Linked DNA regions of Homo sapiens: all the other regions are linked to region 3. The links come from fine-mapping of genetic effects on gene expression. A gene starts in region 3. Each other region holds a variant in brackets. All regions are shown on one strand. Distances are between the middles of the regions. Region 1 overlaps EBF4 (EBF family member 4). Region 2 overlaps EBF4 (EBF family member 4). Region 3 holds the start of EBF4 (EBF family member 4).

What was found.
Region 1: its variant is fine-mapped to the expression of EBF4 in whole blood (TOPMed, PIP above 0.99).
Region 2: its variant is fine-mapped to the expression of EBF4 in whole blood (TOPMed, PIP above 0.99).

Annotation. Positions count from the first base shown.
Region 1 is chr20:2,738,537-2,748,449 of GRCh38, reverse strand. All of the region lies in intron 6 of EBF4 (EBF family member 4), which reads right to left. Among named protein-coding and RNA genes, the nearest start is that of EBF4, 51 kb to the right of the region's middle. RefSeq lists a silencer at 5,105-5,154 and an enhancer at 9,307-9,888. The variant C/T (reference allele first, on the strand shown) is at 6,800.
Region 2 is chr20:2,726,253-2,736,165 of GRCh38, reverse strand. All of the region lies in intron 6 of EBF4 (EBF family member 4), which reads right to left. Among named protein-coding and RNA genes, the nearest start is that of EBF4, 38 kb to the right of the region's middle. The variant G/C (reference allele first, on the strand shown) is at 2,986.
Region 3 is chr20:2,689,319-2,699,231 of GRCh38, reverse strand. It overlaps EBF4 (EBF family member 4), which reads right to left and starts at 6,452. Exons shown (of 17, transcript NM_001395167.1): 1 at 5,450-6,452. The coding sequence starts at 5,586. LOC105372507 (a long non-coding RNA gene) reads left to right here and starts at 6,612. Exons shown (of 3, transcript XR_937210.3): 1 at 6,612-7,166; 2 at 7,768-7,892. RefSeq lists enhancers at 1,280-1,823, 4,297-5,281.

The DNA.
Region 1 (9,913 bases), 49 kb before region 3:
CCCTCTGCCTGCTCCCACTCAGGCACACATCCCATATTCCCATCATGGCCTCCATATACCAGGGTGCCTGATACACACCAGACAGACCCATCACAATGACAACTTCGCTATACAACCATACACACCGTGTGCTGATCACACAGGGCTTATTTATGCCACAAAGTGTATACTTAGCACTCCCACACAGTATATATTCACCATGAAGAGTAAGTCCATTATATACACTACCTATACTTATTACTCATTATACCCAACGCACTGTATACCCATCACACATACAATATATGCTCCGTATGTGGCGTGTACGCACACATACCCCATGTAATGTTATCACACACTGTGTATACGTCACAGTATATGCTCATCACCCATATAGCACATCTGTTATACAACACATCCCTCCCCAGAGTATACCCATCACCCACACCATGTACACTCCTCAGACACAGCACATTCTTTGTAGACACTGTTTATGCCTTGGATACTATTACTCACAAAATACAGCCATCACACACACTCGGGGTATAACCTTCACACAAGCATAAACAACATGTACTCCACATATAGCCTGCACTCATCCCACACATATGGCATACTAAGCAGACACAGAGCCTGTACCCATCATGCACGGTGTATGCCCACCCTACACAGTATATGCACAGAGAAATAGGAAATACACAGAACAAATACATTAATACGCATTTTATGTTGTAAATGATTACCCAAAATATAGTTATTGCAAATACTGTAAAGCCATCCCATATAGCAGATGCCCCCAGCAAATTCACCTCCCACATGGCATATCCTCCTCCCACACATTTTATATCCATTATACACATAGGAAAAGCTTAATCATACAGAGCACATACCCACCATATACACATGGTGTATCTGTCAGACATGTGGTACAGAGACACCGTGAATGTCTTCTTTTTTACATAGAGTTATTGGGAAAAAAACACATATGCGCTGATGAGGTTGCTTTTTAGACAAACACATGAGCACTTTGTCCTCCTCTCCTTCCTGGCAGTTGGCTGGGAGGGTGGGTCCTTGGTCCTGTCACCTACCAGTAAGGTAGCCATGGACAACATTCTGGCTGTTGTACTCTTTTTTTTCCTGTTTTTTTTTTTTTGTTTGTTTTGTTTTTTGTTTTGAGACAGAGTCTTGCTCTGTTGCCCAGGCTCGCCATGTCTCACTGCAACCTCCACCTCCTGGGTTCAAGCAATTGTCCCTGCCTCAGCCCTTGGCTTCCCGAGTTACAGGGGATTACAGGGGGATCACAGGGGCCTGCCACCACGCCTGGCTACTTTTTGTAGTTTTAGTAGAGACGGTGTTTTGCCATGTTGGCCAGGCTGGTCTCGATTCCTGACCTCAGGTGATTCACCCACCTCGGCCTCCCAAAGTGTTGGGATTACAGGCATGAGCCACTGCACCCAGCCCTGTTTAACTCTTGGTAAACTCGGAATATGATCAGTGTCTGCCTTATGCCTTATAGCACTCTGTGAGCATCTGGGAAGATACCCTTTACAAACTGTAGAGTGCAGGGCTAACGTCTGCAGTAGGTCCTGATATGTGGAACAGCCTCCTGGGCCACTGTATGAGTTTCTCCAGTCAGTCAGCTTCCTCATTTTACCTCCACCCAATTGGGAGATATTTTTACCATACTATTTACTAAAGCAAATACAAGAGTCCCAAACCTGGGGTGGAACTTTAACCACGGTATAGTTACTCATGTACTACTTATATACCCCAAATTTGAATGTTCATTTAATTCACCAGAGTTGCCTCCAAAGTCTGCAAACATTAAATTTCTGTTCAGAGGAAAATTTGTTACAGGTCCTGAAAGCCCAGTCCCCAAAAAGGAGGTCACCAAGTGCTGGGAGGAGTAAGCACCAGCCCTGGAACTGAGGTGTCCCCAGCAGGCAGCCCCTCCTTGGGAGCTGGTGGCAGTCACCTTCCTAGAGATACCTCTCCCTGGGGTCCTGCCTCTGTCTACATTCTCAGCACTTGTCATGTTCCCCCACAGTGGGCACCCCCTATATTTCCCAAATGGTGCACCCCTACAGTGTAGACAATCCATTTACCCCTGCAGGATACCCTGCAGTGCAGACAGCTGTTATGCCCCCAAACAGTAGTCACCAATGTGTAGATGCCATATATATCCCTATGGGTCACCCCAAGGTGCAGACACCTTCAGTGCTCCTGAGAGGTACACCTGCACAGTGGGCGCACTCCATTTCTCTCTTATTAGTTACTAATCACTCCCTACACCCCTTATGACACCCCATGGTGTAAACACACTACACCCACATGTGCGACATGTTCCTCATCCATGCCCCACATTCACATGTGACAGAGTATAGACTCCCTACTCACACACACAGGCAGACCAGCTCATTTAAATTAAGTACTCGTGTGCTCGGTCCTTTGGCAGGTGCTAGATGGAGGGAAAAACACCAGGATGGGGCATGGTCTCTGTCCTAAAGGGATTGAAGGCTCACCTTTGGATACCACTGAAGATGCGACAAGCATAGGACTGCACCAAAAGATGACACATGTGCCCACTGCACCCCACTCCACTCAAACCTACAGGATCAAGAGGAAGGGTCCTTGGGAAGGGGCCAAGATAGGGGCTCTGGCCAGGCCTGGACTCTCTGCATGACCCGGGGTAGGTAAATCCTTCCACACCCATGAAGGGAGAGTAGCGATTGACGGCTGCCGTGACACCTTCTAGTCCTGCCTCTGGGACATCCTTTACTTCTGCCCTCCCCAAGGCTGTGGTTTCCTGCTCCCTCACTGGCCCTTCCCCAAGCCTTTGCTCAGCAGGTCTTGCCACTGTCCCTTTACAGTACAGGTTTCATTTGTCCTTTGGGTCCACACCAATTCTCACGCCCTGTACAGCCACCATTTTCTGGCCACTCTAGGTTTCAAGGACCACCCCTTTCTGAGAGCCCTAGGGACCTGCCAGCACCTCTGTCTATGGGGACACCTCAGTGTTTGAGCCTGGCTAGCATTACCTGCAGAGTGTGGGTGAGTAAAAGCAGCTGCACAAGACCATGGCCTGCAGTGGGGGCTGAGGGTCAGTCCCCTTCTCCCTTCCCTTTGGGCCTGTCCTCAGAGCTAGCACATAGTCGAAACCATCCATGGTGTGGCTGAAACCTCACTCCCTTCCAGCTGGTAGTCCACGAGGCTTCTCCCAGTCAGAGAGCCTGCACCACCCCCTAAGACCAGCAGCGTCAGCGTCACCTGAGACCTTGCTACAAGTGTAGAATCTCAGGCCTCCCCTCAGACCTGCTGAGTCAGAATCACATCTCTGCATTCATACGCCCTCCAGGTGATGCTGGTTCACCCTGAAGTTTGAGAACTACCGCACTGGAGCTGCGCTACCCATTACTATAGCCACCAGCCCCACGCGGCATGAACCCTTGCAGTGTGGCTAGTCCGAACTTGAGATGTGCTGTAAGTGTAAAACACACATCAGATTTCCAAGACTTAGAAAAAAAGAATATAAAATAATTCATCAGTAATCTTTTATGTTGATTTCATGTGGGAATGCTCATCTTTTAGATATATTGGGTTAAATAAAATGCATTATGATAATTAGTTGTATCAGTTTCTTGTGGCTACTGGAAAATTTAACATTACATATGTGACTTGAGGCCTTGCTCAGTGGCTCGTGCCTGTAATCCCAGCATTTTGGGAGGCTGAGGTGGGTGGATCGCTTGAGGCCAGGAGTTTGAGACTAGCCTGCCCAATGCTGCGAAACTCCATCTCTATTAAAAATATAGAAATTAGCTGGGTGAGGTGGTGCATGCCTGTAGTCCCAGCTACTCAGGTGGCTGAGGCACGAGAATTGCTTGAACGGGGGAGGTGGAGGTTGCAGTGAGCCAAGGTTGAGCCACTACACTCCAGCCTGGGTGACAGAGTGAGACCCTGTCTCAAAAAAAAAAAAAAAAAGAAAAGAAAAAAAGAAAAAAGAAAAGAAAAAAGCATATTTACATACATATGTGGCTTGCTTGCATTATATTAATATCGGACAATGCTTCACTGGAGTGTATGTCTCTAGGGGAAAGTGACTCGCATTTACTATTGATTGATTGGAGCACAGACTATAAAGTTAAGTGCTAATTTGTAGAAAACTGATAAGATACAAATGATATTTGTCAGTGGGAGCTAAAAATTTTGATGACCTGATATAAAAATTAGCCGGGCGTGGTGGCAGGCGCCTGTAATCCCAGCTACTCGGGAGGCTGAGGCAGGAGAATCACTTGAACCCGGGAGGCGGAGGTTGCAGTGAGCTGAGATCACGCCATTGCACTCCAGCCTGGGGGACAAGAGTGAGACTTCGTCTCAAAAAAAAAAAAATAAAAAAAATAAATAAAAACTTTGATGACCTGGAGGTAGAGCATGGAAAGACAGATAATAAAGACTGGGAAGGGTGAGTTGGGGGGCAGGGAGAAGAGAAGTGGGTTATAGGGTACAAATAGCAAGATAGAAGGAATAAACTTGATGTTTGATAGCAGAGTGGGGTGACTATACTTAGCCAAAATGTATTGTACCTGTGTGATGGACACCCTAAATATCTGGATTGGATCACCACACATTGTATACTTTCACTTGTACCCTGTGAATTTATACTCCCCGCCCCCAAATTCATATGACTTGGAAACAAATGATATTTGTCAGGAGAAGTAAATAATTTCTGTTTGGTGGAGAAATTAGCCCTAAAGATGATAAAATTGTCCTATGGACATTAACTAGCTTTATATCTAATTTGGCCATCTTATTCCAGTATTTTCCACACAATCCCTTGCCTCTCCCTCCCTCCCCTCAACCCCTTTCCATATACGCACGCACTCACACACTCGCACATGTATCACTTTCTCTTCGTCTTCTTTGAATCAGCTTTGTCATCCCATTGGTTCCCTCATCAATAAGTTATAGAAAACTTTGATACATGCTCAGTAGCAATTTGTATGAGAATCACGCTTTTGACATTTTGAAGACTGTGCTTTGGCAAAGGTGACCCGCCCCTAAAGGCTCCTGCCTTCCAAGGCTGGACCTGGAATTAGAGGACTTCCGTTGGGGTCTAGAACCAGGAGCAGTGCCCGGGCTCTCCCCTGGACCTAGAGAGACTGCCGACCCTCCGGGTGCCGCTGCCTGGTCCTCTCCTTGCCCACCAGGGGGAGACAGACACACCGCAGAGGCTGGAAGGGCGAACGTGAGAACAACCCAGGAGAATTCTCCCTTGGCTGACGCCCAGGGGGTGACACTTTATTCCACCTGAGCAGTCAGGGAAGGATGAGAATGGAGTCAGGGAAGAAGAAGGAGGGGCAGCAGGTCCTCCAAGCCATGTCTGCACAGAGGCCAGATGTGGGGGCTGGGGACTGGGGGAGAGTGAGAGACCTGGTGGGCAGGGGAGTTGGAGGGAGACACACACATGGAACACATGTGGACATGGGAACTGCGGGCAGGTGTTCCCCTTGAAAGAAGAGAGCCTGGGAAGGGGCTGGGTAAGTGAGGACAAGGTTCTGGGCCTGGGACACCCTGTAGGGACTTGAGGCAGGAAGGGATGTGCACTTTGTTGAGGGGCTTGAAGCCCTGCTTGTCAGCATGGAACCACCCCCCACCTCTAAAGCTTGGATGAGCCTGGGGGTGTTCTCTGAGCACCCCTCCCCACTCCTGGCCCTATGGGGCTGAAAAGGAGTCTAGGAAAGCCCGTTTTTCCTGACCAGGATGGGGGCAGGGGGCAGGGAGTGGGGAGGAGTAAAGTGAGCCCAAGTCCACAGCCCTCTCTGACCTGAGGATCCCCATGGAGGGTGACCACTGCAGGACCAGTGCCCAGTGCCATCCCACTGTGGCCATGAGGCTCTTGGAGGGCATGGCTTCCTAATCCAGACCCCACAGAAAAGGGAGTAAGGGAAAGGCCAAGTCGCAGAAGCTTCCATTAGGATTACTGGAAGAAAACACCATAAATACAAGCATGACTTACAAATGAAATGCATTAGGGAGGTAACTATGCAAAAACAAAACAAACAAACAAACAACAAAAAAAGAAAAACAGGGAACCAGGTCTAACCCATCAGGCACTCAGCACCTTAGCAACTGCCCAGAACGCTGCTGAGTTTGTCACTTTGGCATTATCTTGCTCAATCCCCCAGGTCGTGTCGGTCTGCAACCATTCCCACTTTACGGATGAGAAAACCAAGGCTAAGCTATTGACTGTGACTTGACAAAGTCACAGTCAATGCTAAAGTAAGGATATGAAAACGGGTCTTTATGAACCACTGATGCCGACAAGAGTCCTAGAAGTCCTTCTAAGTGGGGCTCTCAGAGTCCGACCCAGGCTGGTACTGCAGCGGCAAGCCTGCCTTCAAAAGCAGCTCTGAGAGGCAGGCTGTGTGGGGACCAGGATAGTATGTTGTGGGGATTTCCTCGAGGTTACAAATTCAACAGGGTTGCAGAGGTCAAACTCAGGTCCTCTTGCTCCTAGTTTTGGGCTTTTGGCTGTTGTGACTGCTGCTATCAGTCGAGAAGATCTTCAGTATTAAAAAACAATGGAACCAATAGTTAAAAATTGTTCTAGCTCATTGGGGCTATATGGGCTTCATTATTCCATTCTGCCTGTATTCCACATTCTCAATAAAAACTTTAATGAAAGACCAGAAGAAGAGCTGTGAACAGTGGTCATCCAACTAATGAAGTATCTAAAGGATGGTAGTTATGCATCATGACTCTGATGCCTGTGACTTAAAGGAAAGCTCAGAGTAGTTCACCCACACACCCACCTTACCACATC[C/T]TGAACTTGGTTTAGCCTTCGTAATCATGTCTATAAACGCTTTTTATTCCTCCCCATAAAAACAGCTCAAGATGAAATGAAAAGAAACGTCTTGTCCATGGAGTATTTCCTACCAAAGAAGCAAACTCTGGGTTGAGTATGGCTAAAGTGCAAACATTTAACTTATACACTACTTCTCAGGGGTGACACCATTGCATTAACTCCCCAAGCACAGTGCTTTACTCAAAAGAGACACTCAGTAGAGAAGGCAAGTGTGAAGGCAATTGATGTGAGTCCACTGTTAAATTCTAGGTTTTCAGGGGGTAGAAGGCAGAGTGGGATGGAGCTGCTTTTTTTTTTCAGTCAGGGTCTCGCTCTGTCACCCAGACTGGAGTGCAGTGGTGTGATCTTGGCTCACTGCAGCCTTGACCTCCCAGGCTTAAGTGATCCTCTCACCTCAGCCTCCTGAGCAGGTGGGACTACAGGTCACACTACCATGCTCAGCTAATTTTGTTTATTTTTTGTAGAGACGGAGGTCTCAGTACGTTGCCCAGGCTGGTCTCAAACTCCTGGGCTCAGGCGATCCTTCTGATTCAGCCTCCCAAAATGCTGAGATTACAGGCATGAGCCACCATGCCTGGCCTGGAGCTTCTTTTGGAAGACAACGTCCAGGAACTTTACAGTGAGTTGATGCCTGCCTGATTCCCTCATGCCCCAGCTGCAGTGTAGACTGTCAAATGGCTCGCAGCTGCCCCAAGGTAATCTGAGAATTACCCTCAGCCAAGAGCATATACTCCCCACCAGTAGCCCACAGCCAATGACAGATTGACATTACAAGGAGGACCAACTCTCTGGCCATTCACACTCCAGACCTCTGCATGGGATAGGCTGACGCTAGACTCCGACCGAGACCACCTCCTTGTTAAACTCCCTCTATACTCATTCCTTTTCTCCTGAGAGCTCTCCTTTGATAAACCTCTTTCACAAGAATCCCCATCTCAGGCTCTGCTTCCAGGAATCCCACCCTAAGAAAACTTAGGTCACAGAGCTAAGGCTTTTCACCAGCTTTTTCTTCCCTGCATCCCCATGAGATACTTAGGGCTGAAATTATGTTCTCACTTCCAAAGAGAAAGCTGTCAGTAACTCAAAGAGCTGGAAGGAGAGCCCGAGTGCATTTTCCACTACAGGTCTGTCAGGGGCAAGGAAGAACGTGTCTAGATTACAGTGCTCCCTAAGGGAACTTTTTCCAGAATGATATGCATTAGCCACGCATGGCTACTAAGCACTGGAAATGTGGCTAGTGCAACTGAGGAACTGAATTTTATTTCATTTTAATTAACATAAATCTATTTTTTTTTTGAAACGGAGTCTCGCTCTGTTGCCCAGGCTGGAGTGCAGTGGCGTGATCTCGGCTCACTGCAACCTCCACCTCCTGGGTTCAAGCGATTCTCCCGCCTCAGCCTCCTGAGTAGCTGGGACTAAAGGCGACTGCCACCATGCCCAGCTAATTTTTGTATTTTTAGTAGAGACAGCGTTTCACCATATTGGTCAGGCTGGTCATGAACTCCTGACCTCTGGTGATCCACCCGCCTTGGCCTCCCAAAGTGCTGGAATTACAGGCGTGGGCCACTGCGCCCAGCCATTTTAATGAACATAAATCTAAATAGTCACATGTGGCTCGAGACTACCATATTGGACAGTGCAGATCTAGAAAGAAGGTATGCAGTGAATGGATATACGAGCTGGGGCAGGATGTTCCAAACAACAGTGTGTCCTGTGAAGGCCTTGGGAAAGACAGCAGGTTAAGAGTGAAGGGTAGATTAAATTGGATATGTGTTTCCAAGCCCAAAGCTGGCACTGCAGCCTGAGATGGGGAAATAAGGGGACAGGGATCTCCGCTAATTTTTATCCTAAAAGATTTGTCTTGGGCTCCCATGAGCCTCCGAAGAAACTGAAGCAGTTTCTGGCTCTCCAGCGTGTTCACTGTCTGCTTCTCTCTACCCTCAGCTCAGGGACAGAGGAGGACACAGAGGGCTGGGCCATTCATCCCCTCATTCATTCCATACACCCACTTAAAAAGATTTATTAAATACCTTCTATGTGTTAGGCACTGCGGCATTGTATAAAATCTTAAGGAAATTACAACCCAACAGGAAAGAGAAACTCAGGAAGACAGAGTGGTGGGCACGGCAGGAGGATGTGCCAAGTGTAATCTGCAGTGGCCACTTATTTTGCCTAGGGGAGGCGGAATGCTTCCTAGAGCTCCAATTTGGTCTTGGGTGATGGGTCTTGGAGGATCTCACCGAGAAGTAGGAGGCAGGGCCCTCCATGCAAAGGGACTAACAGCTCCACCACGGGGCAGACGGCTCACTCGATCAGTGGTGCCTGACAAGACTGAGGAGGGCAGCGTGGCTTGGGGCCTGGGGTTGGGACCAAATCATGCGGGACTTGGATCCTCTGGGTGATGGGAAGGCTACAGGGGATGTCTCCCTTCAGGCAGAAACAGGCACCAAAGGGCCTACGCTAGAGAAGGGAAGGGAAATGAGGAGCTTACTGTAATAGTTCAGGCCCATGTGGGGTTGGCCCAGGCTGCTTCCTGGTCTTAGCCTGCGGTAGAAGCCAAGATAGACTGTCCCCAGGGCCACAGCCACCTGCCAGGCCTGGACCTGGCCTCCCCACCATGATCCCCACCCGGGTAGAGGTGGCTGCAGTGCAGATGGGCTGGAGGACTATAAATAGCCAGGGCGCATACATTAGCATGCCAATGCACCCGCACCCCATCCTCTATGCTAATGGCCCACCATGCGCCTGAACACCTTCTGTTCCCCTGCATGCATTTGCATGCACAATTAGCATAATCTTGTATAATTAATGAACAGCGTCAATTTTAGCTCCTAAGTAATTTGATTAACATGTTGATAGGGCACTTACTAGGCTCTCCAAACCTCAGGGCTGGGCATGGGGCCTGAGGAGAAGGGGAGGGGGTGTGGAGAGACTGCTAAGGGGCCCCCAGCTGCCCACCAAGAGTGGCAGTGGCTCCACTTTCCCCAAACCAGGCCTGAGGGGAGAGGAGGAAGGGTGGAGTGGCCACTAATGGGAGGCCTCTGGGCATGCCACATGCAGCGGCAGGAAGGG
Region 2 (9,913 bases), 37 kb before region 3:
GGGTCATCCTGGCCAATCAAGCAAATATTTAAAGTCTTAGAGCTGTGATGTCAGATACAGTAACCATGTGTTATTTCTTAAATTTGATTTAAATTAAACACAATTAAATATTCAATTCCTCAGTCACGGTAGCTACAGTTCAAGTGCCCAATAAATATGTGTGGCTATTGGCTACCATATTGGTTGGTACAGAATATTTTCATCATTGCAGAAAGTACTATTGGATAGTGTGGTCTTCAAGCCTTACATTGTTTTCTATTTCTTCTTATTATTATGTAATTATAGATAATCTCTACTGACCTTTCTTCAAGTACACGAATTTTTTTCAAAATTATAAATTGTTGTTTACATAATTATATTTGTCTCCTCAACTGCTCTGTAAGCTCTCAGAGGGCAGGGATCATTGTTTAAGCCTCTCTTCTCCCAAGCATCCATCATAGTCCCAGCCCCACAACAGGTGCTGATTGATTCATGATAGAATTCAAGAGTCAAAAATTACTGTGACTGGATGAATGCTGGACTAAAGCCCCCAAGGCACTTTTAACTTGTGCCCAGGTAAGAAATAACAATTACAGGGACAGGACTTTGGGAATTGCTAAGTAAAGACCTCTGAAAATCCATTCTTCCATAAAGAAACAAGAACACTGGCAAACATGGTCAAAATCAACTTTCTCAGAACTCTAAAAATTAACAACATGTGTGCAACAACTCAAGGAACATTGAGGCAAGAAAAATGGCTGAGTTGTAATAAGAACAGAAAGCTTTGTGGTGTTTTAATTTGCCCTATTCCCATCCCCTACTCCCCAGCCCTGTTGAAGACCAGCTACCTTGCAACCACTATTGTAGTTGTGAAAACTAGCAAGCTAGCAACCATAGGAAGGGGTAGAGTGGGTTTGGAGCCTCTCAACAAGCTGTATTCCCAGTCAGTTTTCACTCTTTAACCTTTCTAGCAACTCCCTGACAGCTTTATTTGCAGAACTTGTTATTTGACCCGATTCAGAACTTACTTAGTGGGAAAGACCCTATCTTCAGGGTGTTTGTTGAAAACAGCCAGCGGCAATTGCTTAACATTGCAGCTACATGAGGCAGCAATACAAGTTGGGGGCAAATAAAAGTTTGGCCATAATATTTTAAAGGAAAAAGTGGGGAATAAGATGTTCACAGGGGCTCTGAAAAGCTCTGACATATTCCTGGAGATCTAGAAAGCTATGCATATGTGCAGGGAGAGGCACATGCCCAAAAAAGGCATGGAAAGCCCCTGGTCTCTCACCTCTGGTTTATCCCAAGGCCCTGAGCAAGCAGGAAGTGAAGGTCAAGGCAGAGTTGTAAATCGCTGGAGCACTGAAGGCATGTCTTAACACACATACAGAACCTTTTGGCAATGGGTTGAACACTTATTGGCATTCAAGGCATTTAAAGAAATGCCTGTCCAATCATGGCCTGATAACTAAGCCAAGAGCAGAAACTTCAGTGATTATACATGACAGGAAATATAGACTTTATATAATTAGTCCAAGAAAATCACTAAACAAACAAACAGCAATAGCAATAAGAACAAAATTGGGAGGGAGGATCTGATTGCCAGAGTGCAACATTATATGATTAAAATGTCCAGTTTTCAACAAACAATTATGAGACATGCAAGGTACAGGAAAGTAAGACCCATACATTGTAATAAAGCAGCCAACAGGAACTATCCCTGAGGAAGCCCAGAGGTTAGAATTTTTAGACAAATACTTTATTAATTAATTTATTTTTGGAACAGGGTCTTGCTCTGTTGCCCAGGCTGAAGTGCAGTGGTGTGATCATGGCTCACTGAAGCCTTGACCTCCCAGGTTCAAGTGATCCTCCCACCTTAGTTCCCAAGTAGCTGGGACTACAGGTATGAGCCACCATGCCCAGCTAATTTTTGTAGGTTTTTGTAGAGACAGGGTTTCACCATGTTGCCCAGGCTGGTCTCAAACTCCTAGGCTCAAGCAATCTGCCCTTCTCTGCCTACCAAAATGCTGGGATTATAGGAGTGAGCCACTGCAGCTGGCATAGATAAAGACTTTAAATGAGCAATTATAAATATGTTCATAGAACTAAAGGAAACTATGTCTAAAAAATTCAAGAAAAGTATGAGAATGAAGTCACACCAAAAAAATCAATAAAGGATTTCAAATTATATTTTTAAAAACCCATGAAATTCTGAAGTAGAAAAGAACAATAAGTAAAATTTAAAAATACCTGGAACAAGCTTCTCTAACCTGCGACCCACGGGGCACATGCAGCCCAGGTTGGCTTTGAATTAGCCTGCAAATTTGTAAACTTTCTTATTATGAGATGTTTTTGCTTTTTTTTTTTTTTTCTCATCAGCTATCGCTAGTATTAATGTATTTTATGTGTGGCTCAAGACAAGTCTTCTTCCAATATGGCCCACGGAAGCCAAAAGATTGGACACCCCTGACCTAGAGGAACTCAACAACATATCTCATTTGGTGGGACGAAAAAAAATCAGTATACTTGAATATAGGCCAATTGAGATTATCTAGCTCAGAAGCAGAAAGAAAAAAGAATGAAGAAAAATGAACAGAGCTTAAGAGACCTGTGGGAGCCATCAAGCATACCAGTATATGTATAATGGGAATCTGAGAAGGAGAGTAGAGATGGAACAGGACAGAAAAATATTCAAGAAAATGCCCCTAAATTTCCTAAATGTGCTCAGTAATGAAAAACATTATTGAGCACATCTTAAGAAGCTCAGTAAACTCCAAGTAGTATGAACACAAAGTGTATGATCTATACAAAGACACATCATACTCAAACTTTTGAAAGCCAAAGAAAAAGAAAGGATCTGAGAAGCAATGAGAGAGAGAGAGAAGTAACTCGTCATATATAAGGAATCCTTAATAAGATCACCACATAACTTCTGAAACCATGAAGGACAGAAGGCAGTGAGATGATATATTGTGTTAAAAGAAAACAACTATCGACCAAAAAATT[G/C]CATGTCCAGCAAAACTATCAACTTCTAAAATGATCAACTTCAAAAATGAAGGAGAAATTGAGACATTTTCAGATAAACAAAAACTGAGAGGATTCATCACTAACAGGTTTGTCCTACAAGAAATACTAAAGGGAGTCCTTCAGTCTGAAATGAAACAAGACAAGACAGTAATATGAATTAACATGAACAGATAAAGAGCACTGGTAAAAGTCACTACATAGGTAAACATAAAAGACAGCATAAATGTATTTTTGTTTGTAATGATTTTGTTTTCCTATCTAATTTAAAAGACAACTGCACATTTGTGGGGATAGGGGATATATGGGAACTCTTTATAATTCCGTCTCAAAAAAAAATAAGAAAAAGAAAAAATAAAAGAAAAAGAAAACACAAAGCACAATGGCAGACATAAATCCTGTTCTATCAGCAATTACATTAAATATAAATGGATGAAATGCTTCATTAAAAGGAAGAGATTGGCAGAATGGATTAAAAAAGAAAACTACAACACAATCCAACTATATGCTGTCTATGTGAGACATACTTTAAATTCAAATGTACAAAAGGCTTTGAAAATAAAGGGATGGAAAAAGAGATAACATGTGAACCCTAACTGAAAGATAGCTGGAGTGGCTATACTAATTTATGAATAGACACTAAGATAAAAATTATGAGAGACAAAGAAGGACATGTTATAATGATAAAAGTGTCTATCATCAGAAAGAAATAACAATTATAAGCATGTGTATCTAATAACAGTCCGGGTGTGGTGGCTCATGCCCATAACCCCCGCATGTTGGGAGGCTGAGGCAGGCAGATTGCTTGAATCCAGGAGCTCAAGACCAGCCCAGGCAACATGGTGAAACCCCGTCTCAACTAAAAATACAAAAAATTAACTGGGTGTGGTGGCATGCACCTGTAGTCCCAGCTACTCAGGGGGCTGAGGTGGCAGAATCAGCTGAGCTTGGGAGGTTGAGGCTGTAGTGAGCCCTAAGGCTGTAGTGAGTTGAGACTGCATCACTGCACTCTAGCCTGGTCAACTGGAGTGAGACCCTGTCTCAAAAGAAAAAAAAAAAAAGCACATGTATCTAATAACAGCTCCAAAATGCATGAAGCAAAAACTAACAGAATTGAAGGAACAAACAATAATAACTGGCAACTTCAATACCCTACTAGCAAGAATGCATAGAACTATTAAGTTTGACTGGGGCCCAACCTAGCATGCAACTGATAAAGAAACTCACATTCTGTGTGTTGAAGCTCTGCACACACAATGTGAAGTGGCAAGTGAAAGGTGAGGTACTCCTGGCTTTAGCTCTATTCCTAAGAATTCACGTTCACATCCCAGAAGCACAAGGCCCATCAAGTCACAGGCAGATGGAGGCCTGGATTCTGTGCCAGTTCCCTGTTCTAAAAGGAATACCATAGATTACAGGGGTTTGCTTAAGAGAGAGAGGCATCTGGTACCCACGGACAGAGAAAAACTTGGTTTGTTCGTAGGAAGAAGGACAGTAGAAGTGGCCAGACAGATGTCCGCAGCAGAGAATGCTGGCTGTCCCCGTTATCTAGCTTCCTTCCTTTCTTTTCATGATAGAACCCTCTGAGTCTTACCTAGGTTGAGGGATGCCCATTTAGACGCTATCTTTCCCAGCCTCCCTTGCAGCAGGGTGTGGCTAATGGCATGAGCAGAGGTAAGGTGGGACCTTTAGGTTATGTCTTTATAAGTAAGCTGCATGCCCTATTTCTTCTATCCCCTTTTGGTATCTCTGAGCCTGTTTGGGCTATACAGATGAGGGTGTCACCTTAGGGGAGAGCTGAGGAAAAGACTGCTTGGTCCTGGATGACTTTATGGAGAAGAGCCACCCTGGACTGATGCCCTGGACTGTTTTGAGAGAACTAAACAAATATTTAAGCCACCACATTTGGGGATTCTTTGTCACAGCACATTATGCTAACTTACAGTGTCATCAAACAGCAAAGCTGGGCTGGGCACAGTGGCTCATGCCTGTAATCCCAGCGCTTTGGGAGGCTGAGGCGGGCGGATCACGAGGTCACGAGATTGAGACCAGCCTGACCAACATGGTGAAACCCCGTCTCTACTAAAAATACACAAATTAGCTAAGCATGGTGGCACATACCTGTAATCCCAGCTACTCGGGAGGCTGAGGCAGGAGAATTGCTTGAACCCTGGAGGTGGAGGTTGCAGTGAGCCGAGATTGCGCCACTGCACTCCAGCCTGGTGATGGAGCGAGACTCCATCTAAAACAAACAAACAAACAAAAAACCCAGCAAGGCTGGTAGGAGGGAAATGAGATGGGCTTTATGATTGGAGCACTGACTGATAGGATGGTATATAAGAAGTCTGGTGGAGAAGAAAGCGAATGCTTTCTACCAGCAGAGCTGCTGCACAGCCGACAGGGCCCTGCGCGTCCTGTTTTTGCAGAGGGTGGACAGGCCAGCTTCGCATGCCTAAAGGGAACAGTGCTTCATGTATGTGTGCTCATGAGTCTCTCCAGCAGTTAAGGGGACAGCAGAGTCCACAGAGCTTGTTTTGAGTGATATGGTGGCTTAAGGATTACTTGTATAGGGGACGTCATTGTTGCCTCACCCCAACCCCCTTTACTGGGGGTAGTGAGTTGAATGGTGGCCCCCCCAAAAGTTATGTCTACATCCCAGAACCTGTGAAACTGACTTTATTTGGAAAAAGGGTCTTTGCAGGATCTGGAGATGAAATCAATTTGGATTATCTGAGTGGGCCCTAAATTTAGTGATGAAGTCCTTATAACAATAGGATAGAGGGAGATTAGACAGAAGAGGAAGAGGCACTGTGAAGATGAAGGCAGGGATTGGAGTGATGCCGCCACAGGGACTGCCAACAGAATCCAGAAGCTAAGAGAGGCAAGGGAAGATTCACCCCTAGGGCCTTTGGAGGGAGCACGGACCTGCCAACACCTTGCTTTTAGACTTGGCCTCCAGAATGGGGAGATAATTAACATCTGTTTTAAACCACCAAGCTTGCAGTAATTTGTTAGGACAGCCTTAGGAAACTAATACACTAAGCAAGTGCATTCATCCCCCAGCTGCAAAGTGCCCTCAGCCACAGGGCACCTGGAAATGCCAGGGGTGGTTATTCCCTCACCATAGGGCTGGCCGGCAGCCTCTGACTGACTTGCTCTCAAAGAGCTGCCAAAGACTGTGTCCTTGCCACAGAGTGGGATCCACATTCCAGAGCTTCCAGTGGCTCTGAGGCTGGAGGTTGGACTCCAGTTCAATGCACATCCTTACTCAGCTCTGCTGCCTGCCTCCTCCTGCTTCCTTCACTCCCTGTGAGGGAGGAAATTGAATCCCCACCTCAGGTTCTGCTTCTAGAGGGTAACAATCTCTATAGATAGTAACAACCTCTACTTACTACTCTTTGTGTAATAGGATGTGAAAACGGACTCTTTTTGTCTTGGTTTCAGCTGAGGTCTCAAAGTTAAGAACGACAATGTAGCTGCTGGACCACCTATGCTACCCGGTCATAGACTGTCCTTGAGCTCATCATCTCTCTCTAGGGTGAAAAATAGGAACTGTGGTAGGTGGAGCTCTCAAGATGCTGTAGCTCCCCCCATCTCAATGGGGAGGAAGTGTGGGGTGTGTCTGTCTCACTTCGGCCTAGTAGGGGAGCTTCAAAAGGACTGCTTGCAGAAGTTGACAAGCATCCACTAGAATTCAAAGAGCAGAGAGATCCATACTAAATTCATACTTGTGAAGTTTATCAGCAAGAGGCTGGGGAAAGGCAAGCTCATCCTGAGTAGCTAAGCGGGGCCAGACATTGGTGGGGGTGGCTTTAAGAACCGGATGCTGTTTCAGAGCTGATTAGGGCAAGGACCATGCCTGTTTTTCATCAGCCAGATTTGGGTTCTTTGAGCGTGGCTGGCTGTGAACTGTTGCGAAAATGCGCTCAATAGGAGTCGGCGAAGGCTTTCAGTCAGGAGTTCTTAACCTTTTTTTTTTGGTGCCATGGACCCATTGAACCCATTCTCAGCATATTGTTTTCATATGTACAAAATAAATTCATAGAATTATAAAATAAACCAATTATATTGAAAGTTATCAAAAAACATTTTAAAATGGTTATATAGTTATATTCACACTTTATTAATTTATTAAGTAATAAGATCTAGTAGCTGTTCTAACAACTACAGTAATCTTGAAGTGGCAGTGAGTATAATGGGATTTCAAAATATCTGCAACAGCTCTACTATGATATGGAAATTAACCATTCTAGTGATAAAATTACACAGAGTATTAATACTATGGTGATCTGTTGCCCATTCCCACCATTGAAGGAATGCTAAAGATTAGCTAAAGGTTTCCAGGACTGGAAACTGTGTAAAAAAAAAATGGAATTTTCCCATCTAAGTTCCCAGAACTCTACCTATGGACCCACAGGTATTCTTGTAGACCTCAGGTTAGGAATCCTGCTGTGGATAAAGAATCAGGTCTAGAAGCTGAGGGGATCACAAAAGGCCATCAGAGGGTCCTGGATGGGGGATTTGAGAGATCTACAAAAGCTCAGAAAGAAAGCCAGGGTTATTCACCATTTCCAGAGGCACAAATGACAGATTGCCACTGTGTCACCTAGGAACACCTTGTCCCTTCAACCCCCCGCCCCCGAACCTCTTTTCCCTTCAGCCACCTCAACCATGGAGGTGACTCTAGACTACAGGTAATAAGTAGGGGTGAAGGTGAATGAAGAAAGGGAGAAGACCCTTTTACCAAACCCATCCTCACCACTAAACCCAAGGCAGGACCAAGCCAGGATGACGAGATGCTTTAGAATCAGACAATCTCTGGAGTTTGTTACACTCCTCTGGACATTTTCTTACCTAAGTGATCAGAGGATTTTTATTTCATGAGAGTGGTGGAAAAAAGATGAAGGAATAGTCCATTATTTCATCCAGGGATGGAGAGAAATGATCTCACCGAGCAGGTTTATAGGGCAGTTGTTAGAAATGGTAAAGCTGCTTTTGTTTGCACCCTTCTTAGTGCAACTTATACAATAAATGAATTACATTTTCAAAGCACTTTAAAGACTTGGTATCATAAATATTCCATTTCCTCCAGGTTAATCTGAGTTAAACATGATTTCAATAAAAGTGACACAATTAATAGGGTGAAAAGGCAACCTGTAGAATGGGATAAAATATTTGCAAGTCATATATCTGAGGAGGGGTTACTATCTAGAATATAGAAGGAACTCCTAACACTCAACACTCAGAAAACCCCCAAATAATCCAATTTAAAAATAGGCAACGGATCTCAATGAACATTTCTCCAAAGAGCATGTACAAATGGTCAAGAAGCATATGAAAAGATGTTCAACATCATTAGAGAAATGCAAATCAAAATTATAATCAAATATTACCTCACACCCATTAGGATGACTACTATAAAAAAGATGATAAGTGTTGGCAAGGATGTGGGGAAACTGGAAACTTTGTTGGTGGGATTTTTAAATGGTGCGACCTTTTAAATAGAAAACAGTATGGTGGTTCTTCAAAAAATTAGAAATAGAACTACCATTGATTCAGCAATTCCACTTCTAGGTATACAGCTGACCCTTGAAAAACACAGGTTTGAACTGTCTGGGTACACTTATATGTGGATTTATTTTAACCAAATGCAGATTAAAAAATACAGTATTCAAAGGATGCAAAACCTGCTTATCAGAGGGATGACTTTTCATATATGCATTTCTGCAGGGACAACTGTGGCACTTGAGTATTCACAGCTTTTGGTACATGTGTGGGCAGGATGGGGAACCTGGCCAATCCCTGCATATACTGAGGGATGACTGTATATCCAAAAAAATGGAAAGGAGTAAGATCTCAGAGAGATATCTGCACACCCATGTTCATAGCCAAGAGATAGAAGCAACTGAAGGGTTCATTGATGGATAAATGTAGTATATACATACAATGCGATGTATGTATATAATAAAATATATATACATGTTATAAACATATAATATATAATAAAAGGTGGTATATACATATAATGGAATATTATTAAGCCTTAAAAAGGAAGGCAATCCTGTCACATGTTACATGAATGAACCTTGAGGACAGTATGCCAAGTAAAATAAGCCAGTCGCAAAAAGATAAATGCTATGTGAGTCCACTTATGTGAGGAGTCTAAAGTAGTCAAATTCATAGAAACAGAGGGTAGGATGGCAGCTACTACGGGCTGGGGGGAGAGGGAGATGGGGAGCTGCTTAATAAATATAGAGTTTCGGGTTTGCAAGATGAAAAAGTTCTGGAGATCTGTTGCACAACAATTTGAATATAACACTACCGAACCATACTCTCATGAATGTGAAGATGGAAAATTTTACGTTATGTGTTTTTTACCACAACCTAAAAAAATGACACCAAGAAGTTATGTTTTGGTGATCTAGATAATCTAATTGTAAAGTTTGTGTAACAAATAATCAAGAATATTTGGGAAAATTCTAAAATATAAGAGTAATGGGGGAAAAGGACTAGATCTACCAGTTATTAAAACACGTTTAAATCTTCAAAAATTGAAACAGCATCATATTTCTTTTTTTTTTTGAGACAGGGTCTTTCTTTCTCACCTAGGCTAGAGTGTAGTGGTACAATCATAGCTCACGGTAACCTTGAACTCCTGGGTTCGAGTGATCCTCCAACTCAGCCTCTTGAGAAGCTGAGGCTACAGGAGTACACCATCACCCCTGGCTAATTAAAAAACATTTTTGTAGAGACATGGTCTCACCATGTTGCCCTGGCTGTTCTCAAACTCCTGACTTCAAGTCAGGATTCTCCTGCCTCAGCCTCTCAGGTAGCTGGTACTACACCTCACCTCCTGCCTTGCCCTCCCAAAGTGCTGGGATTACAGGCATGAGCCACTTTGCCTGGCCAC
Region 3 (9,913 bases):
GAGTGTATGCAGATGCCTGTGGGGAGATGCCAGCAGCTGCAGAGGTGTCTGACTGCTATTGCTGGGGCTGCCCAGCAGGTCCCGGGAGATGCTCCTTTGCAAGGCTGAGCAGGACACTCCAGGGCCCTTTTCGCGGCAGCTGCTCTCCCCTGCCACAGCATAACTGTCTGGTACAGACAAAGCCCCCCTCACAGTCTCTGTTCTCTCTTCCCAAGGCCACTCACGGCTCTTCACATCCTTGACTGCATGCTTGTTATAGTAAGCAATTTAACCACAGCCAGCTCAAATCCCACAGAGGACAAGTGACCAAGGCTGGAGCCTCGGCCTCCTCTCAGAGGCACCCCCAGGCGTCTTGCCTTCCCTTCTCCCCACCAAAACCTAACTCCTGGCTGCCTTGATAACTCAAGGTTTTGAGCCGTGCCTTGCCCTGGTCCTAATTTGTCTTTGAGTCTGGGATGCTAGGGCTACGGGGGACAAGCCCTACTTTCATCAGTAATGGGGGGAGGCTCTTTGTTGACACCCATCACCCCAGGAAGTGGAGGGAGCAAAAACTCCTGCATCTCATCCCTTTTCGCAGATTTCCCCAAAGTCTCTCTCTGCTAAGTCCAGCTCTTCTTAGCCCCATCCTGACAGGGCTCCACCAGTCCCTTTCCTCTACATCCCCCCTTCCTCCAAGCATCCCATTGGCCCCTGCTCTCCCCTGCAGGCACCCTCTGGACCCCGGGACTGCTGATGATGATCAAGCTGGGCCTGGCCCTCCTGCCCCAGACAAGATCTATTGGCCTGGCCCTGCCCAGCCCCTGACATGCCAGCCCCTGGCCATGGTGCAGACTGGGGAAGATAAAAGCAGTAGCCCAGTGGGGCACACCCACCTCAACAATGCTTGCACAGGGAGGACCTGGTGGCTGCAGGCAGCTGCCCAGAGCCTGTGTCCAGTTGGTCCTGCTGGAGATGAGGTTTGGGTCTGGGGAGGGTCCCTATCCCCTCTTCCCACTGCCCCCAGCAGCTGCCCTGCTCACCTGCCCCAGGAAATTGGCACAGTGACCAAAGTCCCTGAGGGCAGGGGAAAGGGAGGGGGAAGAATCTCACAGGCCTGCTCTCCCCCTCTTCTTTTGGCCCTCAATTCTACCTAAAGACTCCCCACTCCACTGCTCTCTGCCCACCCTCTCGCCACCCACCCACAGGCCTGCCTGCCAGGTCCCAGGCTGAGAATCGGCTATGAATTATTAAAGCAAACAAAAGCATTTCCTAGCAGGGATGCTAGCCTGCAGCTGCTTACAGGAAAGGCAGCCCCAGCTGGCCTCCCTCTCCGGGGCCCTGCTAGTGTGCAGGGATCAGCTCCAGGGGGAGGTCTGGCCTGGGCCTTCCAGAGGTCTCCCCAGACTGGGAAGCACATCAGAAGGAGAAGAGAGCTACTTCTGTGCTGAGTGTGCCAGCAGGAGGACTTGAGTCTTCAGGGGAGTCAGGGGAAGATGGGCTGGGGCTGGGCAAATGGATCTCAGAGATAACGTCCTGTTGGCTCAGGGCAGGGGCAGGGGGTCCTTGTGCAGACTTCCCTGGTAGGAAGACATTGGTAGGGAGAGGGCAGCCCTCTCCACCAGCGTTCCCATCCCCATTGCCTCCAGTTTAAGGGTATGCAGCCCCTCTGCTCTCCCTACCCCCTTTTTCTTTCTTTCTTTTTTTTTTTGAGACAGAGTCTCGCTCTGTCACCCAGGCTGGAGTGCAGTGGCGCGATCTCGGCTCACTGCAAGCTCCGCCTCCCGGGTTCACGCCATTCTCCTGCCTCAGCCTCCTGAGTAGCTGGGACTACAGGCGCCCGCCACCACGCCCGGCTAATTTTTTGTATTTTTAGTAGAGACGGGGTTTCACCGTGTTAGCCAGGATGGTCTCGATCTCCTGACCTCGTGATCTGCCTGCCTCGGCCTCCCAAAGTGCTGGGATTACAGGCGTGAGCCATCGCACCCGGCCCTCCCTACCCCTCTTTTGCTCAGAACTTTCCTTCCTGTTGGCAGAGCCTCCCTCGCTGATCTTAGCAGGCCTTCTGGGCCTTTTCCTCCCCACCCACCTTCTGTAAAATCTTGGCATTGTTGTAAAAGTCAAGCTGTAGAACTGGGCAGGAGAAGCTGCTCCAGTAGCTGATTCCTGGGTCAGGTAGAACCTGGAGTCTTCCAAAGTCAAGAGGGGAACCAATATAAGGGGACTTGGGAGCCTCTGAGAAACATTACTGCTTCCTCCGGCAGACAGTCATCACCCCCATCCCCCATGGACTGCCTGAGCCTGCCCTGGGTGCTGTGGACACAAGGATGAACGGACCGCTACCCTTGCCTTAGGGGAAGGCCCCAGCTGGCAGGGCAAGGAGGACCGGGACAGGCAGAGGAGAGCAGATGCTGGCCTATGGTAAGCATTCGTAGGCAGCATTAAAGCCACTCCCGTGGGCAGGGTGGGAGGGCACAGAAAGAGCAGTTGCTGGGGTCGGTGGGTGTAAGAGGGAGTCCTGAGGCTGGTGAGACTTAATCCAGGGGATGTGCGGGTGCTGAGGGCAGAGGGATTGTTTCAATAGACCATAGCACTTACTGGAGGCGCAGCTAATTCTCCAAGTATCCACTGCCTGCCAAGCATCATGCAGAGGAGGCTGGGGAGGAAGGCTGGAGTCAGACCATGATAGGCCTTGAATGTTGGAGATATCCATGAGGAAGCAGTGGGGCTTGGGGGTTGGTCACTTTATTTTATTTTATTTTATTTATTTACTTATTTATTTTTGAGGCACAGTTTCACTCTGCCGCCCAGGCTGGAGTACAGTGGTGCGATCTTGGCTCACCGAAGCCTCTGCCTCCCGGGCTCAAGCAATCCTCCCACCTCAGCCTCCCAAGTAGCTGGCACTACAAGCATGCTTCACCACGCCCAGCTAATTTTTGTATTATTAGTAGAGACAGGGTTTCACCATGTTGGCTAGGCTGGTCTCGAACTCCTGGCCTCAAGTGAAACGCCCACCTTGGCCTCCCAAAGTGCTGGAATTACAGGCGTGAGCCACCGCGCCCAGCCTGGTCACTTTATTTGTAATCGGAGAGAGACATGATCTTAAAAAAGTACTTTGGAAATACTGCTTTGGTCCCCAATGCAGGGAAGATGGTTTTAGGGGAGTGGTGAATGGCTGGGGCTAGGCACTGGGCCAGGAGGCTGAGGTGGTAACCAGGGTGCAGTTAACCTTCAAGCCAGGGAGGAAGCGGGTGGAGGGCCAGGGGGTTTCATTGCTAAAAGTGGTGGCTGAGGGCACTGAGATTGGGACTAGGACACGGAAAAGAACATTCCTAAGCCTTGACAATCAGGCAACTGTGGGGTGAGGCTGAGGAAGGTGTCAAAGCCAACTCTCGGATCCCAGGGAGTCTTTTGGGAGAGCACTTCCGTGAAAGTTTCTCAGAGATGAGAGGGAGAGAAACCAGGCCGTGATGAAGGCGGAGGCAGGGCCAGGGGGAGGAATTTTCATTGTTGCTGTTTTGGGATGAGAAGACCCGTGCAGAGGACTGACTGAGGAACCAGATACAACTGTAGTGATGACAGACAACACGGGGAAGAGTGGGGAGGAAGGATGAGGCAGCTCCCTCTGGGACAGGGAGGAAAGTCAGCTGAACAACAAAGCGAGTGGGGGCTCCTAGTCTATGTCCTGAGACAGAGAAGTCTCCACACTTGGGGATTAGCAGACCGAGCCTGAAGAAAGCCCCTGTTCACATTGCGGAAGCCCTCTGCATCCCAGCAATGTGGCCCTCACAATGTGGGGAGTCAGACTGGACACCCCAAGCCCACTCAACCCCACTATGCGCAGACACCACTGCTGTGGCCCATGCTCTGGGGGAAGCCTTATCCCCACACTTCTTGAACCCCACGCAGTCTCCAAGGGCACTGCCTCCTTCACGTCTGCTTCCCCTTCATCAGACCTGCCTCTGGGTAGGCACAGAGGGAAAGGTTGCAGAGAAATGGAACCTTAACTCCCAGAGGCCCCCATCAGCACTCCTCACCCACTCTTACAAAGAGCTCTCGCCACACAGCAGGTGGTGGGGCCAAAGAGGGGGCCATGTTAAGAAACTAACCTTCTCAAGTTGAAAAAAAAAAAAGCCAGAACCAACAGAAGAATAGGCAGGAGGTGGAATTGTAAGCATAGCACAGGAAAACACAAGTTAATGGGAAGAAAAATAGGAAGGAAATACACTAAAATGTTGACAGTAGTTGTATTACAGAGGAGGGACTAAATTTTTTATTTTCCAATTTTTCTAGAATATAGCTATATCCCTTGTAAAAGTTTTGGAAATTAATTCATCCACAAGACCCTTTCTCTTCCGTAAGAGATCAGCTCCAGAGCCCCCCAGCGTTCCCTCCCGACAGCCAGGAAAGGACCGGCGTGCAGAAACGGCTTCAGTTTGCACATGAAGCGCGGTGTGTGTCTGTTACACGGTGAGGTTGAGGCGTCCTGCGGAGTGTGAATGTGGGCTCCTGTGTCAGGCCCGGTCTGCATTAAGCCCCCCATTCAGAATCCCTTCGGGCTGCTGCAACAGCTCAGACTTCTGGGAAGCCAAGTGCCCACCCTGTCCCAGCTGTCAGCAGAGCTGGCACCTCCCTAATCCTAACCACTGTGACTCCCCATAGGATACCTAAATGCCTCCCTCCATGGTCACAGCTGAAGGTGCAAAAAGCCAGGGGGTGCAGGGGCTTTGGGGGCAGGTCAATAAACTTTTAAAGTTCGCTTTCAAATCCTGGAGTCAACCCCCTACTGAGACTCCCAGACCCCTGCAAAGGAGTCAGAGGAGACCGGCGCGGGTGCTGGGTTCCCAGGGACTCTCTGCCTTCCAAAGGACCTACCAGAAAAACACCCGAGGGAAAGGCAGGGGCCCTGCCCAGTTCCCAGGCCAATCAGTCCAGCCAGGCCGACTGCCCACCTCATCTCTTCGCCACCGTCCAGCCCCCAGCCGCTTCTCTGGCTCTGCACACCCCCATCCGCCAACTCTGAGGGGCGTGGGAAAGGAAAAAGGGGGCTGGGTTTCGTGCCTTTCCTGACAGAGAGCTGCGGAATTGGACAAGGAGAGTCACTGGGACTGCCCAGGAAGGAGGGGCTGGACGTTCCTAGACGGCCGGTGGCTGTGGGTCATGGCTGGGAGCTCTGCCTCTTCTCTCAGAGCCATAGACAGCCCGGCTGGGGTGGCGTTCACCGCCGCACCCGCGAGCGGCCGTCAGAAATCTACCGGGGCAGCCCGGAGTGGAGGCAGAAGCCCCGCCCCAGCCCGCCCCACAGCCTCAGGAGGCAGCACAGGCACTCCGGACGGGGTGGGCCGGGGAGCTCGCCGGGACCGTCCAGAGTTAGGGCTCCTTCCGCCCCTGGCTCCAGCAGCTCCAGCAAGCTGAGCTGAGGCGGCGCGCAGCCGTCCAACCCGAGCGCACCGGGTCCGGTCCGAGCGCTTACCTCTGCGCCGCGGTGCTGGCGTCCAGGATGCCCGCGCCCTGCATCCAGGAGCGCACTGAGCCCAGGCCGGCGGGCAGCAGCGGCTCCTCCTTCAGGTTCAGCCCGCTGCGGGGCAGAGCGTCCTGCGCAGGGAACATGAGGGCGCGCGGTGAGTGAGCGCCCCCGCCGCCCCGGATCCGGTCCCGCTGAGGCTGCGGGCGTCTAGCTCAGCCCGACCCGACGGCACCAGGCGCCTCCAGCAGCGCAGCGCCGAGTCCGGGTGGCTCAGTGCGCGCTCGCCTCTTGGGCGCTCCCTCGGAGAAAGCGGGTCCGCGGGCGCCGGCGCTGTCCCCTCCCCTCCTGGGGCGCTGGGCGGGGAGATGGAGGGATTCCCCCGCGGCCTGAGCGCTGGCGGGCGGACTGCGAGCGGGGCGGGGAGGGCGGGGAGCGGAGCCCGCACCCGGTCCGCGCGGAGGCGCCCCAGAGGCGCGCTCTGGCGGCTGCCCGGGGCCGCGGTCGTCGGAGGGGGGGCCCGAGCGCCCCGGGAGCTGCCTCGGGCAAGGCGGGGGCGCGGGGCCGCCCGCCCTTTCCCCCTCGCCGCCCCCACCTCCCGCCCGCCCGCCCGCCCGCGGCGCCAGCGCGGGGCGCTGATTACCATCCGGGAGGCGGAGGCTGCGGGCGCGGAGCTCGGCGGCGGCGGCGACAGTGGCGGCAGCGGCGGCAGGAGCAGCAGCAGCCGCGCGTCCCGGGGAAAGGCTGGGGCCGCGCCGGGCCAGCAGACGCCGCCGCCGCCAGCGCCAGCGCCCCGCGTGCCCCGGCGTCCCGGCCCTGCCGTAGCCCCGGGCGGCAGCACCTGGAGCAGCAGCAGCAGCAGCCCGGCCGACTCCCCCCGGGGCCCGGTTCCCGCGCCGCCCCGCCGCGGCCGCCGCCGCCCGCCGCTCCCCGGGGCCTGGCCTCGGGCCCGGGCCATCCCGCCGCCGCCGCCGCCGCCGCCGCCGCTCCCGGGGGAGCGGTAGCCGAAGGGAGGGAGCGCAGGCGGGAGGAGGGATGTCGGGAGCGGGCGGGCCCAGGGGACGGGGGCCCGGGGGAGGCGGGGGCGGGGCGGCGCGGCCGGCCGAGGGGCGGCCGGGGACGTGACATCATCGGGGGAGGAGCGGCCGGGCCCGGGCCGCGGCGGCGGGGCGGACCCTGGCGAGTCGGTCGCCTGGGCTGGGGGCTGCGGCCTGGTCGAGGCCGCGGGAGGGAACGGAAGAGCCCGGCGGGGGCCACGGAAACCCGCGCAGGGAGGATCCGGGGCCGCGCGGCGAGGGAGCCCGGCCCGAGCGGGAGGTGCGCGCCCCGCTGCGCTCGGGAACCTCCGCGGCCTCCCCGTCGCCGCCGGACGAAGCCCCGGCGTCTTCGCGGCCTCATCTCCCTCCCCCGGCACCCGCCGTACTCTCCGCGCCCGACGCCTTGTGCCTGGACTTGCTGCTCATTTTGACGCCTCCGAGCTTTCGCTCTTGACGTCTTTCTCCCGCGTGACTGTACTCCCGCATTTCCCCGGCGACCCTGACCTCACTTTCACCCCAGCTAAGGACTGAAACGTCCCTGCCGTAGGCTGCGGCCCCAGACAAGCTGGGCGAGGTCCCTGCATCCAACCATCCCGATTCCTGATGCTGGGTTACCTAAGCCTAAAGCATTTTCAGTTTCCATCTGTGCCTTTCAGGAACCTCCTGATTTCTGATTGCGAGTTGGACAGGTAGGCTCAGAGCCCAGCTCACCTCCTGTTTCTCCCCAGCCGCGTCCCGTCTCAGATCCCATTCCTTTTTTTTTATTAGTTCCTGGCACAGAAGTCGTCTGGCCCTTGACCGTGGGGCAGAGACATTTCTGCCCCTCTCCCCACGTTGTCCTGGCCAGGCTTCGAGCAAGCCCAGACTGAGTCCAGCACTTTCCTGCAGAACAGCATGGGGGCCACCTGCCCTGCCTGCCATGTTCACGCTCAGACACCCCTGCAATAACACCTTCCTGCTCCAACTCACTCCCATCCTCTTCTGGGGGGCCTCCAAGTGTGAGTTAGCGTTCTGTCACACATTGGCCCAGATGAGGCGTCCTGGGGGCACTGCTGGTTCTCCTGCCATCACAGAGGCCCTCTCACCTCCTTTCCTGGTCTCTTTACCACCCCTTCTCTCTATGCCTCTCCCCATCACCCACAGGGGGCTGCCATTCCCACCAGGACTCCTTCAGGTCTCAGCTTTTACCCTAGGTGGGATTATCAAACATGGGTTTCTCCTTAAGACAATTCTTAAGCCAGTCTCTTTCTCCATCTCCTGATCTGCCTCTCTAAATCTTGCTTCTCACAGTGTGGTCCCCGGACCAGCAGCATTGACATCACCTGGGAGCTGGTGAGGAATCCAGACTCTTAGGCCCTGCCGGGACCTGCTGAATCGGAACCTGCAATTTACCAAGACCTGTACACACATTACATGTGAGAAGCCCCCCCAGAGCTGTTCCACACTTGCTCCACTCCTCTCCCCAACATTCAGACCCACCTCTGGCTCTCTCATTTCCAGCAGACACCCTTCCTCTTACCCAGTGGAGAGGACTCAGGGAATCTTGGCAGAACCCTGCTGGCACCATCAGCGGCGTATGCTCCTCCTCGTTTCTGTCTTTTCACCCGTTCTCTTCTCTCGGTCTTCCACTGTGGAGATGGATGTGGAACCTTTTTGCTTAGTCCTGTCTTCTGCCTTTCCTGAGATTACCCCACCGATCTCCTGTTTGTGTCTCAATATGTTCTTTTCTCTGCTCAGATCTCCCCATTCTTAAAAGAACTGTCCCCTCCTCCTCGCCTCCTTCTTCAATTTCTGCCCCTCCTGTGTCTGAGACCGTTCACAGGAACGCTCTGCCAAGGATGCCTGACTGGCCCCCAGCAAGCCACTCCTGGGGCCCTTGTGTGCTGGCTCCCTTCCAGCCCTGCCTTCCTGCTTCTGCTCTCAGACTCCGTGGTCTCTCTTGGGCTTCAGGGCCTGGGACCTCCTGGCAGCAGTGGGCTACCCCACCCCCCAACCCCACACACACGGGAAACCACCCTGGTGACCAGATATATATATATATATATATATACACATATATATATGCATGTGTATGTATTTACACACACCTGGGAAATATATATATCTGGTGTATATATATTTACACACACCTGGGAAACTGCCCTGATGACCAGAGCACACTGTCTTTCTCCTCTGCCCTCTGAGCACCTCAAGCTGCTGTGCCTGGCGCTCTTCTTCTGTTCTCCCCTCACAGAATTCACGTTCCTCCACAGTCTCAGAGAACATCTTTGAGGAAATGGTCTCCCCATATGGGACTCTCACTTCTGTCAGTCCTGAACATCAGTGGGTGAGGACAGGGCTGGGCTTGGCCCTCAGAGAGGAGAGGAGCACCTGCCTCCGGGGAGGGTCCCTATCCCAAGAGGCTCTGTCCCTAGGCTGGGATGGGGCTTCTTGGTCTCCACAGGTTCACTCTCCACCAGCCAGCTCTTCTTCCTGACTCCCCTGTGTCTGTGCTGGGCACCTCCTCCTGCTGCCCACCAGGCTTGGAGTTTGGGAATCATCTCCAATACTTTTCTCTCCCTGTCCTGCAGCTACCTGTTTGTTTGGTCTTAACGGGTCCCCCTTCCCTTTCCTCCCTACCCCAGTGCCCACAGAGAATATCTAACAGCAAAACGTACTTTTCCTCCACTGGACTCCACCCTGGCTTGGAGCAGATATGGAATTCCCAGTTCTGCCCACAGCCTCCTCCCTTAGCTCCCGTCCCCAGCTGCTCACCCCCAAACACCCCCATCCTCCTGCCACAGTTTTAAAAAGTGTTGCTTGGATTGGGCCATCGCCTGCTTAGAAACTTAAATGTCTTTTGTGGCTTCTCAAATAAACATTTAGGCCCTTAGTTTGGGAACATTCTAGGCCCTTTGATGCCCTATCCAATTTCTCTTGCCGGCCAGCCTTACCTCCACTCCCTTGCTGTGTGAGTTTCTTGCTTATCCAGCATGGGAGATCACACCGTTTCCCAAACCCAGCTCCCTGTCTCCCAGCTCCAGCCTTCATGCTGGCTGGCCCTTCCTGCCGGAATGCCCTCACTTTGCAGCATTCCTTTTTGTGATGGTTGAAGTGATTTGGTTGGAGTGCTTTTCATTCTGGAAGGTTGTCCCCAAGATAGATTGGGGGATAGATGCTCAGAATTAACCTGCGCAGAAGGTGGAATCAGTCAGCCCAGGAAAGTGGCACTGAGTTAAGGCTCAGTCATAGCTGGGGCAGACTCCCAACTTGCGTGGGTTTCTGTTCTATCCTAACCACATGGAACAGAAAACCAGCCAGGATGGTGTTTGAGGCTTCCCAGAGCCTGCAGCCCCAGAGAAGGGCTCCTGGGTTAGAGCTGCTGAACCAAGGGGTGATGAAGGGAGGAAGGTCAATGAGCAGTTCTGGGGCAGCACTTGGGGGTCAGAGGTGAGTG